2 separate regions of the Homo sapiens genome follow, and region 2 is linked to region 1. The links come from fine-mapping of genetic effects on gene expression. Tissue or cell type: whole blood. Region 1 holds a variant in brackets; the other region holds the start of a gene. All regions are shown on one strand. Distances are from middle to middle.

The links. PIP is the estimated chance that this variant, and not a neighbour inherited with it, causes the effect.
Region 2: it holds the start of HEXA, and the variant in region 1 is fine-mapped to the expression of HEXA in whole blood (TOPMed, PIP above 0.99).

Annotation. Positions count from the first base shown.
Region 1 is chr15:72,342,199-72,350,303 of GRCh38, reverse strand. It overlaps HEXA (hexosaminidase subunit alpha), which reads left to right. Exons shown (of 14, transcript NM_000520.6): 8 at 1,045-1,225; 9 at 2,170-2,256; 10 at 2,546-2,618; 11 at 3,594-3,777; 12 at 3,979-4,069; 13 at 4,754-4,858; 14 at 6,164-8,105. The coding sequence ends at 6,227. Among named protein-coding and RNA genes, the nearest start is that of CELF6, 26 kb to the right of the region's middle. RefSeq lists an enhancer at 7,447-7,946. The variant A/G (reference allele first, on the strand shown) is at 3,642.
Region 2 is chr15:72,371,057-72,379,161 of GRCh38, reverse strand. HEXA (hexosaminidase subunit alpha) reads left to right here and starts at 3,148. Exons shown (of 14, transcript NM_000520.6): 1 at 3,148-3,442. The coding sequence starts at 3,190. HEXA-AS1 (HEXA antisense RNA 1) reads right to left here and starts at 3,049. Exons shown (of 1, transcript NR_027262.1): 1 at 374-3,049. RefSeq lists enhancers at 2,389-2,438, 2,769-2,908, 2,800-3,356, 3,357-3,912.

The DNA.
Region 1 (8,105 bases):
AGGGCACATTTTTCTCAGATGCCGTTGCAGGTAGTTGTGCCTAGAGTGGATGCTGAGGAATCTGACCACCAGGGTAGAATCTGAAAGAAAGAAGCCCAAGGGCAGCCTGCAGAGGTCAGAGTCAGTCAGTACCCCTGCTCCCTTTCTTCTGTATACCCTCAGCCCTCCAGTGTGAGCCCCCAACACAGGTTAAATGACAGTTGAAAAGGGCTACTGGCCTGATAGAAAACTGAAGATATTGGCCGGGCGTGGTGGCTCATGTCTGTAATCCCACCACTTTTGGAGGCCAAGGCGGGTGGATCACCTGAGGTCAGGAGTTCAAGACCAGCCTGGCCAACATGGTGAAACTCCATCTCTACTAAAAATACAAAAATTAGCCAGGCGTGGTGGCAGGCGCCTGTAATCCCAGCTACTCGGGAGGCTGAGGCAGGAGAATCGCTTGAACCCAGGAGGCAGAGGTTGCAGTGAGCCAAGATCATGCCACTGTACTCCAGCCTGGGCGACAGAGCAAGACTCTGTCTCAAAAACAAACAAACAACAACAACCAAAAAAAAACCCTGAAGATATCTTGTGACCTCAGCGTCAGGAAGTAGTCTCTGGGCCAAGGGAGATATCCCTTAGCAAATGTAAAAAGATTCTGGGTGATGGTTGACCCCACCTACAGGAGGAGATAGAGAAGAAAGATTTTGCCAGTTTGGCTGGATTAGGCTCTCTCTCTGCCTCAAGGCCTGTGAGGAGAGCAGCCTTGGGAGCAAGGGTAGCACCTGCTAGAAGCAGTGTGTCCAGGCAAGAGTGTGCGCACTGACAGTTGTCTGGCTGGAACTTAGCCTCTGCCTATGATTGTGGATATATTTGTATCTTTTTACTGTGACTAAATGGTGGTGACTACCAGTGTCTGTGAGTGCCTAAGTGTGCCTACCTAAATGTGTGTGATGTTTATGAATACACTTGTCTTGCTTTGTGTGACTCGTGTCCTTACGTGTAGGACTGTGCGTGGGGGTTTATGTATTTGTGACACTCATATGGGGTTTTCTCTTGGCTTAGGTATCCCTGGATTACTGACTCCTTGCTACTCTGGGTCTGAGCCCTCTGGCACCTTTGGACCAGTGAATCCCAGTCTCAATAATACCTATGAGTTCATGAGCACATTCTTCTTAGAAGTCAGCTCTGTCTTCCCAGATTTTTATCTTCATCTTGGAGGAGATGAGGTTGATTTCACCTGCTGGTATGAGCCCTTTGATCTTCCCACTGTGGCCTGATCAGTTGCTTACTCAGAATAGAAGTTAGCACCCGAGGGGCTGCTTAGCTCAGCTGCTGCTCTCAGGGGTCTGTATGGGCTCACATTGCTCAGGTCTTAGGCCTTCCTCTGCCCATCTACGTAGAGATCCTACCTGATTTTGGCAAGGCTTTCACTGTGAACCTCTTCCTTCCTACTCTCATATCCTTGAGGTATTGATAGAAAAAACAGCCCTGGGCACAGAATTGTCTTGGAAAAGTTCGGGATAGAGAAAAATAATCCCTGTTTATGAAGGCTTAAAATTGTCTAGTTGAAGAGTCAAGACACAGAATTCAAGACTAATAGGTGACAATGTCTAATTAGTATTCAGTTGTAAAGTCCAAACCCTTGGTTCTAGTAAGCTCAAAAGAGGCTGAGGGGCTTCTTTGAGAAGAGGGCGCTAGAGCTGAATCTGGGGAAATCAATTTGGCTTTTTGGAGATGTGAGCAGGGGAAAATATTCCAGAAGGAGAACAATGTGAGCAAAATGTGGACGTCATAACGCAAGGGATCTGCAGCAGGTGTTAGACAGCAAGGCTTGTCATCCAACTGGAAGAGCAGATAGGAAAGCCGAAATCCAGTGTGCTGGAGCTTCAAGTTAAGACCTTGGATTCTCATGTTGCAGTCCAGAGAGGATTAATATGTTTTCTCTTTGGGAGTTTGAACTTAAAACTCTTCAGGTCCAGACTCAGCCTTTCTCAGCCTGTGTCAACAGCCCACCTGCTTCACATAACTTTGCTTGGCCACACTTTCCACATGTAGGGCTTCTGAGATCCTTGCTTATTTGATTTTTCAGGTGAAAAGAGGAAGTTATAGGGGGCCAGGTGACTAATCCCCAGGCATTAGGCTTTCAGGATGTTGAAAGATTAATCTTCATTTTCTCTTGGGATTCAGGAAGTCCAACCCAGAGATCCAGGACTTTATGAGGAAGAAAGGCTTCGGTGAGGACTTCAAGCAGCTGGAGTCCTTCTACATCCAGACGTGAGGAAGGAAGGAGGGTGGGTGGGGTCCCTTGGGGGTCCTCCTGTGGGGTCCTCCCTTTCCATACCGAGTCAGGCCCTGCTTGGCCACTGTCTGGTCCCTGCAGGGTTCCCTTGTCCTTTGTCCCATCCTTTCAGATTTGGAGTGGTTGGTTTTCAGCCCAGGGGAAAGACACTGCTTAATGAGGAATAGGCCCCTGGCCAGGCTCAACCCCTAGAGCACTGGCACAAACAGTCTAGAACCCATCTGAGCTAAGCAGACACTTACTAGACACTCCTCTCCTCTCCAGGCTGCTGGACATCGTCTCTTCTTATGGCAAGGGCTATGTGGTGTGGCAGGAGGTGTTTGATAATAAAGTAAAGGTGAGCCGGGGCAGAGAAGAGAAGAAGCCACCAGCAGTGCCTCCCTCTGGTCTCCCCAGCTCCTCCCTGCCTCTACAGAGACTGATCCTCCTGGTTTGGATTGGGCTTTAATGGTCGGAGCACTCTCCTTTTCTCTCTAGAAAGGCCACAGAGTGCTGGGTGCAGTGGCTCACGCCTGTAATCCAAGCACTTTGGTAGGCCAAGGCAGGGGGATTGCTTGAGCCTAGGAGTTCAAGACCAGCCTGGCCAACATAGCAAAACCCTCATCTCTACAAAAAATACAAAAATCAGGAGGCTGAGGTTGGGGTACTGCTTGAGCCCAGGAGGCAGAGGTTGCTGTGAGCCAAGATGTGCCTCTGCACTCAACCCTGGGCAACAGAGTGAGACCCTGCCTCAAAAAAACCAAAGGCCGCTGTGGTATGAGCCCTGGGTTTATGTGTCAGAGTTTCTATCTTCCCTCACTACAAACTTAATTAAGAACTATTTCTGCTGTTAGGTTACTTGGATAGGCTGGATTTTTCTTCCTAAATCATAGATGAGGGTCTTCTGGGTCTGTGGGACCAAGGTTACCTTCTCCTTTATTGTTGATCAGTAAGATCCCAGTCTCCTGTCACATGCAAGGACTCTTCAGGAACCTTGTCCCGTCCCCAGAAACATCTGGAGACTTTTGGACATGGCAGCTCCTGGGTCCCACTGCTTGCCTCCCTCAGCTCACAGCTGGTATTACTAGCTCTGTGTGGACAGGGAGGCTGCAGAGGGACGGGGAGGAGAGCTGCAGGGAGGCCTCTTAGGGCCCTGGATTCCTTGGCCTCTGTCCTGAGGTGTGAGCTCAATGGTCAGGAGTCACAGAGACATACTTTGCTGCTGGGGAACAGAGGGAGCACATACCTGTTGTCCCATGTTGCCTGTGTATGAATAAGGCCCAGGAATCTCCTCAGCTTTGTGTCCTTACTGCCATTTGACCTTTTATAACAGATTCAGCCAGACACAATCATACAGGTGTGGCGAGAGGATATTCCAGTG[A/G]ACTATATGAAGGAGCTGGAACTGGTCACCAAGGCCGGCTTCCGGGCCCTTCTCTCTGCCCCCTGGTACCTGAACCGTATATCCTATGGCCCTGACTGGAAGGATTTCTACATAGTGGAACCCCTGGCATTTGAAGGTGAAAGCAGAGAGCTCTCCTTGCTAACCAAAGGAGGCTGGGTTGGGGCACAGGATGGGAGGCAGGAAGGTCTGGGCCAGACATTTCCAGTTAGTAAATGAAACAACTTAGCTGGGGTGAGGGCCACATTGGGAAGGTGGTTGAGAGGGACCCTGGAGTTACCCCACCATCACCAGACTGTTGTTGCTTGTTTTCCCTCAGGTACCCCTGAGCAGAAGGCTCTGGTGATTGGTGGAGAGGCTTGTATGTGGGGAGAATATGTGGACAACACAAACCTGGTCCCCAGGCTCTGGTAAGGGTTTTCGGGGGGGAGGTGGAGGGTTGGGCCTGAGAGCAGGAGTTCTCCCTTAGAGACCCAATCCCATCTAGCCACCTCTGGACTAGTACCCTTCTTTCAGGCCTGAGAGAGAGCAGGCCGTGCAACGAGCCTTCTGAAGATTTGTGTGCAATATTCACTCTCCACATGACTTCCGTCTATATCCCTCCAGCTGCCCTTTGGTATGTGGGATAGGGATTGTTAACCTTACTTCCCAGAGAGATAATGAGGCCTGGAGAACATAGGTGAGTTGCTCAAGACCCAGCACAAGCATCCATGATTCCTGTAATAAGGCTTCCCTCTGCTGTTTTCACTGCAGCCTTACCAAGTATGGTTGGGTGTGCAAAGTTTACATTTTAAGGACCTCTGCTGCTGCCACTGTCATTGTGGTTAATGATGGCTTTAAGGTTTATTCTTATTCCCATATCTTTGAGAGAGGAAGAGAGTGGGATTGCTACCCACATTTTAATGAAGGTGGAGCTGAGCCGTAGAACTCTCTGGGAGCCATCCAACCTGGCTGTGGCTCATAACAAGGTATTGATCACTTCCTTTGGCCTGAGTGAGTCCAGGGTGCCTAGACAAGAGGTAGCAGCCTGTGGATGTCCAGCACCTTTGCAGGGAATACAGGGCCCAATCTGGCACATGCCCCTTTTCCTCCAGGCCCAGAGCAGGGGCTGTTGCCGAAAGGCTGTGGAGCAACAAGTTGACATCTGACCTGACATTTGCCTATGAACGTTTGTCACACTTCCGCTGTGAATTGCTGAGGTAAGCAAGCTGTGGGGCCTTCGCAAGGCGGAGCAGGCCAGATCCAGGGCTGGGGAACCCCTTAGAGAGAGGAAGACAATAATTAACAATAGCTAACACTTACAGAGGCTTATAGTCAGCCCTCATCCACGGATTCAACCAACTGCGATAAAAAGTATTCAGGAAAAAAAAAATACAACAAAAAATGGTACAAATAAAAAATACTGTATAACAACTATTTACATAGCATTTATATTGTATTAGGTATAAGTAATCTAAGATCATTTCAAGTATATGGGAAGTTGTACATTGGTTATATGCAAATACTATGTCATTTTTATATAAGGGACTTGAGCATCCTTGGATTTTGGTATCCACGGGGGTCCTGAAACAAATCCCCTGTGGATACTGAGGGACAACTGTATTTTGTGGCAAACACTGTGCTAAGTTTGTTACAAATATTGTCTCATTTAGTCTTCACCACAGCCCCATGAGACAGGTGCATTTTAGAGATAGACACTGAAGCACAGAGTTCAGGACCTTGCCCAAAGTCACTAAGAAGCAGGATTTGAACCAGGCTGACTTACAGGATGTCATGACACCTTTGCCTCTGTCAGGGATGTGCCTGTGTAAGATAGTCATTTCCCTGATTCCTTCGTTGGCTAGGTCTTGAGTACTTGGGGGACATAGCCTAGTGCAGAGCAGAGTCCTGGGCTGAGAGTCAAGCATGATGGTGTCTAAGCCTCAATTATGTCATTCACTGGGTAACTTCCAGCTGGTTCTCTAAGCATGTTGCTTACTTGGATGATAAGGGAAGCATGCCTAGAGGTCCCCTAAGGAGATTGGTCAGGTTATAGACTGAGACCCAAGGACAGGATTTCGCATCCATGTTCATGGACAGGACAGCACCTAAGTCCCCCAGTGCCACCATATTTACAGCATTTTAGAGTCAGGAACAGAGGGCTAAGTAGACCAAGAGCATTGGCTGCCTTTCAGACATCCATCTATATTCTAAAGGGATTGAGTTATTTGGGGTTAGGGTACAGAGATGGGCAGGATATAAATAGATGTCGCCAACGTTTCTGGATCTCCAAGACCTGTATCAGAATCACCTGAGGCACCTGTTCAGCTTGCAGATTCTTGCCAATACTTTGCCCCACCCCAGGTGAGAATCTCTGGAATTGAGATTCCCAGGTGCATTTGGTGTACAGTGACAGTTTGAGAGTCACCGAAATGGGGAAGGAGAGACTGTTGACTGGTGTGAAAAGTGTTGCTGGGGCCCCTTCTGAGGGGCTTATCTTGCCATTTCTTCATGTCCTCTTGCAGGCGAGGTGTCCAGGCCCAACCCCTCAATGTAGGCTTCTGTGAGCAGGAGTTTGAACAGACCTGAGCCCCAGGCACCGAGGAGGGTGCTGGCTGTAGGTGAATGGTAGTGGAGCCAGGCTTCCACTGCATCCTGGCCAGGGGACGGAGCCCCTTGCCTTCGTGCCCCTTGCCTGCGTGCCCCTGTGCTTGGAGAGAAAGGGGCCGGTGCTGGCGCTCGCATTCAATAAAGAGTAATGTGGCATTTTTCTATAATAAACATGGATTACCTGTGTTTAAAAAAAAAAGTGTGAATGGCGTTAGGGTAAGGGCACAGCCAGGCTGGAGTCAGTGTCTGCCCCTGAGGTCTTTTAAGTTGAGGGCTGGGAATGAAACCTATAGCCTTTGTGCTGTTCTGCCTTGCCTGTGAGCTATGTCACTCCCCTCCCACTCCTGACCATATTCCAGACACCTGCCCTAATCCTCAGCCTGCTCACTTCACTTCTGCATTATATCTCCAAGGCGTTGGTATATGGAAAAAGATGTAGGGGCTTGGAGGTGTTCTGGACAGTGGGGAGGGCTCCAGACCCAACCTGGTCACAGAAGAGCCTCTCCCCCATGCATACTCATCCACCTCCCTCCCCTAGAGCTATTCTCCTTTGGGTTTCTTGCTGCTTCAATTTTATACAACCATTATTTAAATATTATTAAACACATATTGTTCTCTAGGCACTGTGGTAGTGGGTTTTTTTGTTGTTTTTGTTTTTGAGACTGTCTCAAAAACTCTGTCGCCCAGGCTGACAGTGCAGTGGCACAATCTTGGCTCACTGCAGCCTCTGCCTCCTGGGTTCAAGCGATTCTCGTGCATCAGCCTCCTGAGTAACTGGAATTAATAGGCACGTGCCACCATGTCCATCTAATTCATATATATATATTTTTTTTTTCTGAGACGGAGTCTCACTGTCACACAGGCTGGAGTGCAGTGGCACGATCTCGACTCACTGCAAGCTCCACCTCCTGGGTTCACGCCATTCTCCTGCCTCAGCCTCCCCAGTAGCTGGGACTACAGGCGCCCGCCACCACGCCCGGCTAATTTTTTGTATTTTTAGTAGAGATGGGGTTTCTCCGTGTTAGCCAGGATGGTCTCGATCTCCTGACCTCGTGATCCGCCCGCCTTGGCCTCCCAAAGTGCTGGGATTACAGGCGTGAGCCACCGCGCCCGGCCGAATTCATCTATTTTTAGTAGAGATGGGGTTTCACTATATTGGCCAGGCTGGTCTTGAACTCATGACCTCAGATGTTCACTTGTCTTGGCCTCCCAAAGTGCTGGGATTAGAGGCGTGAGCCACCGCACGCGGGCCTGTGGTAAATTGTTGAATTTGAAGGACTCAGAGGCCCTGGTCAATTCCAAAATAACGTAGGCGACTTCCATCCCCCTCCTCCCAACCATTTTCAGCCCAAAGCATCTTCGCAGGGAATGGATGGCTGCGCGGAGGTGGGCGGTGGCTCTGGAGAGGGTCTTTGCAGGTGTGATTTTCTCTAGAAGGAAATGTCTCGTCGTGGACCCAGACTGCCCCCTCCTGGTTTCAGATGCAGAAGTGATACTGTAAGCCAGAGGCGGGGGCAGTAATGCATCGCAGCCATTTTAGGTGAGGATTTCCTTGGCGGTTATTTGTTAAGTTCTTTGGCTGGGCCCTGGGCTGGGGTAACAATGGACAGGTTCCAGGCATTTTTTTCAGAAAGCTTCCAGTGTAGTGGATACAGAAACTTCAGGAAGGCAGGGCTGAGAAGGATCTGAGTAAAACTCGGTCCTTCAACACCATCCTTCAGCCCCTGGGTCATGTTCCTTCGAGGTCCTGGTGGGAGGTAGACAAGCCTAGCCTTGTGCTGTTCCTGTAAGGACAGGGTGGGCATTTTCTACCAACAGAATTCTTGGAATTTTCACACAGCCCAGCCTAGCCAAGTC
Region 2 (8,105 bases), 29 kb before region 1:
AAAACCATCAAATATTATATACAGTATGTTATTATTTTTTATATTCATCTACTGTCCAAATTGATGGCAATGTTGTATATATACTAATTTAAATAATTCATATTGTTAAAAACTGTTTATTCATTTTTAAATTTAAATTTAATTTTTTTTGAGACAGAACCTCCACCCAGGCTGAAGTGCAGTAGCGTGATCTTGGCTCACTGCAACCTCTGCCTCCCAGGTTCAAGTGACCCTCCTGCCTCAGCCTCCCAAGTAGCTGGGATTACAGGTGCCTGCCACCACACTAATTTTTGTATTTTTAGTAGAGATGGGGTTTCACCGTGTTGGCCAGGCTGATCTCAAACTCCTGACCTGAAGTGATTCACCCGCCTCAGCCTCCCAAAGTGCTGGGATTAAGGCATGAGCTACCATACCCAGTCTAATTTTAATTTTAAGTTTTTTTGGTATATAGTAGGTGTATATATTTATGGGGTACCTGAGATGTTTTGATATAGGCATCCAATGTGAAATAAGCACATCATGGAGAATGGGGTTATCCATACCCTCAATCATTTATCCTTTGAGTTATAAACAATCCAGTTACACTCTTTTAAAATATACAATTATTATTGACTATAGTCACCCTATTGTGCTCTCGAATAGTATGTCTTATTCAGGCTACTTTTTTTGTACCCATTAACCACCCCCATCTCAAAAAAGAAAAAAATAAAGAGAGATGGGATTTCCTCGTATTACCCATGCTGATCTTGAACTCCTGGGCTCAAGTGATCCTCCCATCTTGGCCTTCCACAGTGCTGGAATTGCAGGTGTGAGCCACCATCCCCAGCCTGTGATCCATTTTTAATTAAGTTTGTGTATGCTGTGAGGTAGGGGATCATAGTTCATTTTTCCCACATAGGGATATCTATTTTCTTCATCACCTTTTATTGAAAATAACTTGCCTTCCCCACTAAATTAAATTGGTGTCTTCATTGAAATGGAGTAATAATCAAATGGCTCTTTTCCTGGACCCTCTATTCCGTTCCATCTATTTGTCTGCCATTATGCCAAAACCCCACTCTAGTGTATAGTAAGGGGGGATATTTTGGAAGATCAACAAATTTATCTTGTGTAACTTACTTTTATGTATGCATAAGAATATTTGGTTTAAAAATCTGGTTAAGTCTAAAAGAGCTCTTTCAGTAATAATTAAATAACTGAATCCCTGTAATCCACCATGCTCAGCCCCATTAGTAATTTTTATAGCGTCTTTATTTGGATCTAGCTCTTTCATCTTGTGTAACTCTTTTAAGTAAATGACTCCTCCCTTCTGGTACAGGTTGAATATCCATAAAAGGGTGCCTTGGCATGTGCTCAGTCCTGAAATTCTACTTTGATCTACTGCTCTCATCTTTGAAACTGCTCTAAACACTCCCCCAAATTATTGATCCTGTGGGCCTGATTATGAACTTGGCTCTTCTGACAATACTTCTCAAATCCTGTACCTTTGGTAACATCTCTCCTGACTGGCAGAGTACCCAGACACTTAATTAATGCTGATGAAAATTAAGATTTAAGCAAAGAAGAAATTGGTGTAAGAATGCAAGCCTTAGGATCTGAAACTTGATGACTGTGGGATCTAATTTCTGCTTCTTTTGCTACAAGCTCTGTTTTTGAATAATCAACTTTCAAAGACAAATTGCTTGATGAATCTCTGTATTGTCAGAATGTTTCTTTGATTTCCCATCAAAGCCATGTATGTGTAACTAGTAATTAGGTACCTACGACCTGAATATAAATTATCATTATTTCAGTAGCCCTTTATTTGTTTTTGAGAAAGGGTTTCACTATACTGCCCAGGCTAAACTTGAACTCCTTGGTTCAAGTGATCCTGCCGCCTCAGCCTCCTGAATAGCTGGGAGTAGCTGGGACTACAGGGATGTGTTATCATGCCCAGTGAAAGCCCTTTATTTTTAAAAGTTCATTTTCCTGATCTTTACATGTATTTTAATACTAAAATTAAATTTAAAAATTTTAAAAAGTACCTACTAACCAAATAATGCCACCCAATAACAATAGCATTATTTGTATTATGTTCTGGTAATATAGTGGTGAACAAGGAAGACAGGGTCTCTGATAACTGTGGAATTCTCCTTGATCACTTCTCAAGCCTCTCTTCCGGATACTATTTCTTGGATCTACAGCTGTCTTCCTTCCCCACTTCTGTAGTTCAGTCTCTCATTATTCTCTACCTCCAATAAAAAGGGGCCTCCTAACTGGTTTCTTATGCAACTACTCAACATGGTATTTCTAAAATGCAGATCTTTCGGGATGATTTTCAATTGCTCAGAGAATAAATTCCTTGACTTTCTACGTAAGGCCCTGCAGGACCAGGCCCCTGTCATTATCTCTGAGCACTCTCCATCTTGCACCCAAAGCCCCAGCAATATCTTACTGCTTTCAGTAAATACACACCGGGCTATGTGGGGTTTTGTCTGGGGAAAGGGGATGTGAGTTGTAACTAAGAGATTTATAGTCAATCTTGAAGGGAAGAGCTCATATTGGAGGCAATGGAATGCCTCAAGCTGGCTCTGAAAGTACACATTTTTTCCAGTCATAAGTAGATCACATTTGTGTGATCTTGTGATCCTCTCTCTAGCAGAGCCGTGCAGACTACCTACTTCCGGCCCTTTCTTGCCCCACGAAATTTCACATCACAACGACTTGTGGTTTTAATCCTCCGTTTTTCTGCTTCTGAAGTTACTTCAGCCTGGCAAGTCCTTTACCTCCCCGTAGGCCTGGCGAGCTGCATCACAACATTCAAGATTCACCCTAGAGCCATCTGGGAAACTTTCTTCTCCAGGTCGCCCTGCGTCCTCGCCTCCCCACCCCGTTCTTCTCGAGTCGGGTGAGCTGTCTAGTTCCATCACGGCCGGCACGGCCGCAGGGGTGGCCGGTTATTTACTGCTCTACTGGGCCCGTGAACAGTCTGGCGAGCCGAGCAGTTGCCGACGCCCGGCACAATCCGCTGCACGTAGCAGGAGCCTCAGGTCCAGGCCGGAAGTGAAAGGGCAGGGTGTGGGTCCTCCTGGGGTCGCAGGCGCAGAGCCGCCTCTGGTCACGTGATTCGCCGATAAGTCACGGGGGCGCCGCTCACCTGACCAGGGTCTCACGTGGCCAGCCCCCTCCGAGAGGGGAGACCAGCGGGCCATGACAAGCTCCAGGCTTTGGTTTTCGCTGCTGCTGGCGGCAGCGTTCGCAGGACGGGCGACGGCCCTCTGGCCCTGGCCTCAGAACTTCCAAACCTCCGACCAGCGCTACGTCCTTTACCCGAACAACTTTCAATTCCAGTACGATGTCAGCTCGGCCGCGCAGCCCGGCTGCTCAGTCCTCGACGAGGCCTTCCAGCGCTATCGTGACCTGCTTTTCGGTTCCGGGTCTTGGCCCCGTCCTTACCTCACAGGTGAGTCGGACTTGTCCCGCCCTGTTCCTGGGCCCTGAGAGTGCCTGCCTGGGGACAGTTCCCCCAGGGCTCCAGAGACGCCCTATGGGCTTTTGTCCAGCCCTCTGATCACAGGCACTCCACTTCCTCCTCGAGCTGCATTAGGTTTTCATCCAAAGATAACTACTATAGGACTACGGTTCAATCAGGAGATTAATTTATGGAAAATACTGTGCCAGCAGAAATCTAAGGTGATCCTTCTGACCGTGTTCAAGCTAGCCAGGGTCCTAGTGAGACTGTGAGCAAGGGCTGAGTAGAGACCAGAGAAAACACTCAAAATTGGGGAGACATAATACAAGAACTATGCAAAGTTACATACAAGTTTCTGGCACATAGAATGTTTGGCGGGCGGATCACGAGGTCAGGAGTTCGAGACCAGCCCGGCCAACATAGTGAAACCCCGTCTCTACCAAAAACACAAAAAATTAGCCAGGCGTGGCGGCGCGCGCCTGTAGTCCCAGCTACTCGGGATGCTGAGGCAGGAGAATCGGTTGAACCCATGAGGTGGAGGTTGTGGTGAGCTGAGATCGCGCCACTGCACTCCAGCCTGGGCAACAGAGCAAGACTCCCTCTCAGAAAAACAACCCCCCCCCCCAAACAAAACAAAACAAAACAAAAAAAGTGTAAATTGTGAAAGAAATCATAGAACATAAGGAAGTGAGTTTCCAGCGGCCACTTGGAATGGGATGGTAGATGTAATTAGCCGGGACTGAAAAGAGGGTATTCCAGGCAGGAAGAAGGGCTTGAGCAGAGGCACAAAGAATTATGATTGAGTTCAAAGTTCAGGTCTAGTGGATGTGATGAGTGGGGGCTGGGGATTGAGGAGGGATGAGGGTGGGGAAAATGTGGGGTTGAAGAGTCAAGAGCGCTTTAGACATTGGTTTCACATAAAATGGAAGGGGCTAACAGTTTTCTTTTAGGCAGCTATGTAATCAGTACTGAAAATTGTATTTGAGGATAATTATTCCACAGCACATTTGTAAGTCGAGCCAACAATGTAAAGGAATACAATTCTGCTGCATGGGTTCAAAATTTAGAAGTTTCTTGATAATCTGGAATCTAGCTCTTTGGTTATATTGTATAGATGTTATGGGGGTGGGAGCCACATTTACGGTTAAGTCTTGTAGTAATATTTTATATGATGTTTCAAGTGTGTTTAAATTACTTTCACAAAAGTTATCATTTGATATATAGAATTAAAAGCATTTAATTATACAGATGACCCTTAGAGAGTGACATTTGATTTGGGGAAAGAAACACAATCTCAGCATCAGGGTAGTCCTTAACTGGTAAAATGCATTAAGCTGGAGAGGATAAGAGGCCTGCTGTTGAGTGTGGTAGATCACATTTTCCTCTGAATCCTTCATGACAAATAATAGAGTGCCTTACCCAAGATTGGCACTCAGAATATGTTGATTTTGGTTTAGAAGAGTTTGAGCCTGGTTTATGGAAAAAAAAATCCGTCTAACTGGTATATGTCAATCCCAGTGCTGGGCACTCTGAAGGTTACAAGAAAAGTCTTAAGACCTAGGCCTAGGCTCTATAGTTCAATTGCGAAAATATGAAACAGAGGGAGGTACACAGTGAATTATAAGATTCTCAAAAGCTTTATAGGTTGTTTCCTACTATTGTATACATGAGAATAATTCCTTTCCTTTTTTTTTTTTTTTTTGAGACGGAGTCTCGCTTTATCACTCAGCCTACACTGAGGCTGAGTGCAGTGATACGATCTTGGCTCACTGCAGCCTCCGCCTCCTGGGTTCAAGCGATTCTCCTGCCTCAGCCTCCCGAGTAGGTGGGACTACACGTGCTTGCCACCACGCCCAGCTAATTTTTGTATTTTTAGTAGAGATGGGGTTTCACCATGTTGGCCAGGCTGGTCTCAAACTCCTGGCCTCAAGTGATCCACCCACCTCAGCCTCCCAAAGTGCTGAGATTACAGGCATGAGCCACCGCGCCATACCTAATTCCTATACTTCTAAATTAGGCCTTCACCTCCATTGCTATAGCACCATAGTTTAATCAAGTAGATAGAAATGGAGAGATTGTAAGATAATGGAATACTATAAATTCCCTAACAAAAGAGATTTAGAGCCAGATAAATTCAATAAGATGTTTATTTCCATATATTACCTTCCTGTAAGTTCATTAGCTTTATTAGTTGAGGGTTCTTGTCCATTGAGAGAAAATGAAAACTGGGTTGGGTGAACATTACCAAAGACTTAAAAGTAACTTCTTTCTCTATTGCTCTTCCCATGGAGTCTTCCCTTTGGAATGTAGTTTCCTGTGGAGGCTTTTAGGTGACTTTGAGCTAAAATCCTAGTTCTGCAGAAACAAGGATGAAGCAATAGCATGGGAAACAAATAGAGGTAGAGCAATACCAACAAGGCTGAAGCCAGAATACATTTCTTTATGAGTCTGATTTTAGTAAAGAAGGCAACATATGCAGGTTAAATCTTAACTAACAGATTTCCATCCTCTTCCTCCAAACAACTTATTTGTAGGCTCTGGGCCAGTAGGTTTTGTTTGTTTGTTTGTTTTTGTTTTTTTGAGACAGAATCTTGCTTAGTCACCTAGGCTGGAGTTCAGTGGCACAATCTTGGCTCACTGCAACCTCTGCCTCCCGGTCTCAAGCAATTCTCCCACCTCAGCCTCCTGAGTAGCTGGGACCACAGGAGCATGCCACCACACCTGGCTAATTTTTGTATTTTCTGTAGATGGGGTTTCGCCATGTTGCCCAAGCTGGTCTCCAATTCCTGAGCTCAAGTGATCCCCCTGCTTTGGCCTACCAAAGTCCTGGGATTACAGGGTGGAATGAGCCACCTGACCAGCCCAGTGTTTTTCCTAATGCAATACAACTTCTGGTTTTTGTCTGAACCTGAAACTAAGAATTCATACTCCCTTTTCTGAAAAAGAAGTCTGGTATTGAGGTTCAGTTCTATTTTGAATTCACCTTCAAGGGTTAGTCCCACCAGTTGCTAAATGGTCTGTGAAGGTGTTTAGTATTTGCCACCTTTCTTTGTCATTGAGAGGTGTTTCTACCAATTGGAGGGTGTGTGTTGCATGTTGTTGAACCTGTTAAATAGACTTATTTTAGGAACTAGATACTTGAATGAATCTAGTTCCCTGTTTGATTATTAAGCCACATCCTGTTTGCAAAGCAAAGATGTGATTATTTGGAATTTGGAATGGCACCCATCTAATGTTGCTCCAGACATTTAATAAGCATGGTGTGGAGCATGGTGCTTGATGGAGCTGATAAAGTCCAAATTTTTCCAAGTAAAGTGGCTAAGTCTAATTCTGCCATTAGACTGCATTTTTTTTTTTTTTTTGAGATGGAGTCTTGCTCTGTTGCCCAGGCTGGAATGCAGTGGTGTGATTTTGACTCACTGCAACCTCCACCTCCTGGGTTCAAGTGATTATCCTGCCTCAGCCTCCCAAGTAGCTGGGAATTCAGGCACCCACCACCATGCCTGGCTAATTTTTTATTTTTTAGTAGAGACGGGGTTTAGTAGCGATGGGGTTTCACCACGTTGGCCAGACTGGTCTCGAACTCCTGGCCTCATGTGATCTGCCCACCTCAAGATTACAGGTGTGAGCCACTGCACCTGGCCATGACTGCATTCTTCTTTGCTTTTCCTGAAACTGGTTGATAGAAGCCATAGTATATCATAGATATTATAAGGTTCCCATCCTGGTCTGATGTTCACCTGCACATCCCTGTGAGTTGCTGAGGATGCCATTGTCCTTCAACAGAATAATCCTGCCCCCCTTCTCCAGCCCTTTTATTCTGGAATGGAAGTAAGATTATTATATAAGAGCCTGTGTCCTTCTGCAGCCATTATCAGTATTTGATTTGCTCATCCTCAGATATTAAAGAAGTGACTAAATTAATAAATGGCATAGTTCATTATAATCTGGATCTCCTAAAATACCTTCTTTGGCCATTTCTTCTGTATCTGGAACGTTGTAGATATGTAGTAATTATTTGTAAAATATATTAACGTTAAAGAGCTACTTTGTGTAAACATTTGTAAGAAGGCTTTATGGGTTTGGGTTTTGTTTTCTTTTTTTTTTTTTTTTTTTTTTCTTTTAGAGACAGGGTCTTATTTTGTCACCCAGTCTGGAGTGCAGTGGCACAAACACAGCCCACTGCAGCCTCGACCTCCGAGGCTCAAGCTGTCCTCCCATCTCAGCCTCTTGAGTAGCTGGGACTACAGGTGCATAGCTAATTTTTGTAGAGATGGAGTACCACCATGTTGCCCCAGCTGGTCTCGAACCCCTGGGCTCAACCACTCTGCCTGCTTCAGCCACCCAAAGTGTTGGGATTACAGGTCTGAGAAGATCATCAAAAAGATATGATTTGCAGGTTTTCATTGAGGATTACCTTTCCTTTCAGGTTACCAATTTGGAGTGTAAGTGTGTGATTCCAGGCAAAGGATAATCACACTATGCTGCTTATTGTGTGATCCCAACTCGTGCTGCTCTTAACTCAGCATGCAGTGAGAGATGCATTGGGATTGCATCTAGGAGGGAAACAGATAAGGTCAAGCAGCTGGGCTGGGGAGAAAGAATAAGGCCGATTAGTTCTCTCCACTTTAATTGGGCTAGCGGCTAACTATAC